Regions from separate parts of the Homo sapiens genome. Here region 2 is linked to region 1. A link means that fine-mapping ties the variant in region 1 to the expression of a gene that starts in the linked region. Tissue or cell type: whole blood. Region 1 holds a variant in brackets; the other region holds the start of a gene. All regions are shown on one strand. Distances are between the middles of the regions.

Region 1 (2,760 bases):
CTCAGAATGATGGTTTCCACCTTCATCCATGTCCCTACAAAGGACAAGAACTCCTCCTTTTTAATGGCTGCATAGTATTCCATGGTATATATGTGCCACATTTTCTTAATCCAGTCTGTCATCTGTCATTGATGGACATCTGGGTTTGTTCCAAGTCTTTGCTATTGTGAATAGTGCCACAACAAACATACGTGTGCACGTATCTTTATAGTAGCATGATTTATAATCCTTTGGGTATATACCTAGTAATGGAATTGCTGGGTCAAATGGTATTTCTAGTTCTAGATCCTTGAGGAATGGTAATTCTATATTTAACTTTTTGAGGAACTGCTAAAAAATTTTACTAAATAGTGGATATCTTTCTAAGTCCGTAAAAATAGATCTACATCACAATTTCCATTGTGTGACTAGGACGTGCCATAATTAATCTGTCCACTTCCCTATTGGGCATCCTTGTACAAATATCTTTGTGTATGTTTGTGACTATTTCTTTAGGATAAACTTCAAGAAATGGTATTGCTGGGTCAAAGAGCTTTCTCACTTATAATTTATTTATTTATTTATTTTTTTATTTTTTATTTGGAGATGGAGTCTTGCTCTCAGGCTGGAGTGTAACAGCATCATCTCGGCTTACTGCAACCTCCGCCTCCTGGGTTCAAGCAATTCTCCTGCCTCAGCCTCCCGGGTAGCTGGGACTACAGGCATGTGCCACCACACCTGGTTAATTTTTTTTTTTTTTGTATTTTAGTAGATATGGGGTTTCACCTTATTAGACAGGATGGTCTCGATCTCCTGACCTTGTGATCTGCCCACAGCCTCCCAAAATGCTGGGATTACAGACTTGAGCCACTGCGCCCGGCCCTCTCACTTATAATTTTTGACACATATTGTCAGATTGCTTTCCGGAAATGTTGTACCAGTTTATAGTCCTACCAGCCATGTATGAGTACCTGTCTTCTCTAGCCTTCTTAATACTTTGTCAGCTGTACTTTGCATTTTTGTTTTATTAAACATATTTTATATGTTTATCAGTTATATTCCTTTTGTTTTAGTTTATATATTCCCATTTGCAATTAAACATGCTTAAGCCCCTCCCATTTTAAAAAGTAAACAAATAACAAAAAAACTTTTTGATCTCACACCCATTTCCAAAT[A/G]CCCTAAGTAAAGTCTTCTTTGTAGAGCCAAGTTTCTTGAAAGATTGGTTTAAACTCATACTTTTTGCTTTCTTACTTCCCATTCATCCTTCAACATAGGGCAATCTGGGCTGGGCATGGTGGCTCATGCATGTAATTCCAGCACTTTTGGGGGCCAAGGCAGGTGAATTGCTTGAGTGCAGGAGTTCAAGACCTGTCTGGAGAACATAGTGAGACCCTTGTCTCTACAAAATTTTTTTAAAAATTAGCGGGGCATGGCGGTGCACACTGGTGGTCCCAGCTACTAGGGAGGTAAGAGGAGCACTTGAACCTGGGAAGCTGAGACTACCATGAGCCATGATCACACCAATGCACTCCAGTCTGGAGGACTGAGGGAGACCCTGTCACAAAACAAATAAACAAACAAAAACATAGGGCAGTCTGGCTTTGCCCCTCTGCTCCATAAAATGGATATTATGGCCAGGCATAGTGGCTCACGCCTGTAATCTCAGCACTTTGAAAGCTCGAGGCAGGTGGATCACAAGGTCAGGAGTTCAAGAGCAGCCTGGCCAACATGGTGAAACCCTGTCTCTACTAAAAATACAAAAATCAGCCACATGTGGGGGCATGCCTGTAATCCCAGCTACTCAGGAGGCTGAGGCAGGAGAATCACTTGAAACCGGAAGGCAGAGGTTACAATGAGCTGAGATCACACCACTGCACTCCAGCCTGGGTGAAAGAGCGAAACTCCATCTCAAAAAATAAAAATAAATTAAAAAATAAAATAAAATAAAATAAAATGGACATTACATCCATTCCCTTTGGATATTACACTTTTCAGTCCCTTTGAAGCATTTGATACTATTTCTTGCTTGAGTTATCTTTTCCTTTTCTTCTATTATATTTCGTTCATCTGATTTTTTTTCTTTACCTCTCAGGCCACTTTTTTTATGGTGGTAAGAATAATAACTATTATAATAGTTATACCATTAATTGAGCACCTATGCACTGTGTGTATTATATATATAATTTAATCTTTACACCATTCCCCCCCACCCCGCCCAAGTGAGCTGTGTCCTAGAGGTTCATTCTTTCTTTTTTTTTTTTTTCAATTTTATTTAAGTTCCATGATACATGTGGAGAATGTGCAGGTTTGTTACATAGTTATACGTGTGCCATGGTGGTTTGCTGCACCTATCAACACCTAGGTTTTAAGCCCCGCATGCATTAGCTATTTGTCCTGATGCTCTCCCTCCCCTTGCTGCCCCCCACCCGGACAGGCCCCAGTGTGTGTTGTTCCCCTTCCTGTGTCCATGTGTTCTCATTGTTCAACTCGCACTTATGAATAAGAACATGCGGTATTTGGTTTTCTGTTCCTGTGTTAGTTTGCTGAGGATGATGGCTTCTAGTTTCATCTATGTCCTTATAAAGGACATGATCTCATTCCTTTTTATGGCTGCATTGTATTACATGGTGTATATCCACCACATTTTCTTTATCCGGTCTATCATTGATGGACATTTGGACTGGTTCCGTGTCTTTGCTATTGCGAATAGTGCTGCAATAAACGTATGTGTGCATGTATCTTTATAACAGAATAACATATTCCTTTGTGTATATACCCAGT
Region 2 (2,604 bases), 210 kb before region 1:
TGATTTTCAGAAGCTGAAATAGGTTTTCCATTCAATTAACCACAAACTAGGTCTTACGTATATACTTATTAAAGGAGACTCACAGACATCAAATTCTATAAATTGCAGTTAAAGAACATAAAAAAACACAACCTTGCCAAATATGCCACAAATTAAACTAAAGGATATTTTAGTGTTTCTATGATTGCTGGGGGTATGTAATTTCAAATACTGCACTTTCTCACTGAGATCTGTGCTATGCGGCTCTGGGTTCCAGGGACGTTTTAGTGCTTACCTTCTTCTCCCGCATGCTTAGAAGCCTTTGGACCTCTTGCGCAATGAGGAAACCCCAGGGTAACTGTGGGCAGTTGGCTGAGTAGAACCAGAAGCGTAAACATAGTCTGGCAACTGTCAAACAAACTAAAACAAACAAAAAAAAATATTAAAAAAAAAAGGCCCCTAGCTCAGCACTTTGAGTTTCTGTCGAACTGAATCACCAACCTGTTGTACTCAAAGCCTAGGCGCAAGAGCGCCCGGCGCGCGGTTTCGGTCGCCGGAACCCGACGCGCGCCCAGGAAGCAGCCCCTGAGAGCGCCTGGGACAAACGCCGTGCCCAGTGACCCTGCCGAGGGCTGATCGGGCACCTGTCGCCGCGGGCAACCCTCGCTATGTGTTCGAATCCAACCCAGTCCGCCGAGGTGGCCCCTTCCAGGTAACCCCCTCCCCGCCGAGGTCCTGCCGCCAGGCCTCGTACCTGTGTCCCCCCGCACATGTTCCAGCAGCCCCCGGGCCAGAGGCTCTTCTTGGGGCGGTTCCTTCGGCCGCCAGGCCCTCGGTCTCCGGCGCCCTCAAACCTCGGCGACGCTCCGGGCCTCGCTCTCCGCAGGGTCTGGATGGCCCCCGCGCGCAAACCTGGGAAGGGCCTGGGGTTCGCAGAGGGGCGCCCGGGGAACACGCGCGGGGTGAGGTCCTGCCTCGGTCCGGGGAGGCGGCCGACGGAGGACGGGAGGAGGCGGCTACCTGGGGACACCTGGCCGCGCCCCACCTCCCGGGGGCCGGGCCTACCTGCGGCGAGCGGGCGGGCAGTGGGCCGGCGTCTCCCGGGAGCCCGCGCTGCGCTCTCAGCCGCCCCAGCTTCTGCCCCATCCCCGGGCGGGCCAGCCGCCTGCCGCCAGTTCTGGCCCCGCCTTGGCGGCGCGGGTGGCTGCTTTTCGATTTGTGTCTGCACTCGGCGTTCTCAATGATCCTAATTCAGGAAGCATTTCGGTTCTCAGTCTTAAGCAGAGCGCCCTCGGCGCGTCCAGGGCTTTTCGCTTTGGGTCCCACTGGGCCAGGAGTCCTGTGGTTACCTTAGGTCAACTGTTCTCAAAAGGGTGGTCCGGGGACGAGGACAAGATATTCATCAGACAAAATACCCTTTATTCGTGATAAGAAATGGAAATGACCTTACAAGTAATTGATTACATTGGTTCTCCAATGGTGGTCCGCCAGGTCTGGGATGTCTCCAAGATCTTTTCCAGGGGTCTCTGAGGGCAAAACTATTTCCATTATAGTAACAATAAATGATTTGCCATTTTCACTTTCATTCTCTCAAGAGTGTACAGTGGAAATTTCCAGGGGCTATTTGAAGTGTAATAACGTCATCATTCTGTCTCCTAATAGAATACCTGAGTGAGCGTGCTTGTATTTTCTGGTATTTTCCATAGTAGTATGTTTACATTATCAGTATGTACATTTTATAGAGATTTATGTAGATTTATAGAGATTAATAAAATTTGTTCTCAGTACTTGTGAACTTAATTTTTTTTCTTTCCTTTTTTCTTTTTCAGAGTAGGGGGTCTCACTTTGTTGCCCAGGAACTCCTGGGCTCAAGAGATCCTCCTGTCTCATCCTCCAGAGTAGCTGGGACTACAGGTGTCCACCAACTCTCTTGGCTACTGCTTTTGTACTTTGATTAGTTCTATTTGTTCATATCTACTAGGATAGCTATAACCTCATTTTTCTGAAGTAATTATCTTGAAATCTTGATCTTTTCCTTGAGTCTATGCATAAACATAACAAAAAGTAAGCTTTGTTGTCTTGATTTCAAATAATATTTTGAAAATTTCTCAGTTTTAATGTTAGATAATAAATATCATTAGATAAAATTCACATAAGTGAAAGCTCTTTGGGGTCCTTGATAATGTAAAAGAGCGTAAAAAGGTCTTGATTAAAGACTTCAAAAACTGCTGCATCAAGTAATGAAGGCAGCAGGTGGACAGAGTACCTATGCCAGGTGATGGTCACATCCTTCTTTATCCAAAGAACGTGCTTAACAGTTCTTTGAAACACTATTTATGCTTTGGTCGAAGTGGTCTGGCACTTGCTGGGGACCAAGGGAAACATTTTTTCCCCCTTCATTTTTTTTTTTTTTTTCTTGAGACAGAGTCTTGCTCTGTCACCCAGGCTGGAGTACAGTGGCACAATCTTGGCTTACTGTAACCTTCGCCTCCTGGGTTCAAGCGATTCTCCTGCCTCAGCCTTCCGAGTAGCTGGGATTACAGGCATCCACCACCACGCCCGGCTAATTTTTTGTACATTTAGGAGAGAGGGGTTTTCACCATGTTGGCCAGGTTGTTCTCAAAC

The links. PIP is the estimated chance that this variant, and not a neighbour inherited with it, causes the effect.
Region 2: it holds the start of PRRG4, and the variant in region 1 is fine-mapped to the expression of PRRG4 in whole blood (INTERVAL, PIP above 0.99).

Annotation. Positions count from the first base shown.
Region 1 is chr11:32,622,156-32,624,915 of GRCh38, reverse strand. All of the region lies in intron 14 of CCDC73 (coiled-coil domain containing 73), which reads left to right. Among named protein-coding and RNA genes, the nearest start is that of EIF3M, 40 kb to the right of the region's middle. The variant A/G (reference allele first, on the strand shown) is at 1,155.
Region 2 is chr11:32,828,303-32,830,906 of GRCh38, reverse strand. It overlaps PRRG4 (proline rich and Gla domain 4), which reads right to left and starts at 980. Exons shown (of 6, transcript NM_024081.6): 1 at 734-980; 2 at 275-399. The coding sequence starts at 377. It also overlaps a transcript of CCDC73 not described here. RefSeq lists enhancers at 284-343, 354-403 and a silencer at 824-1,203.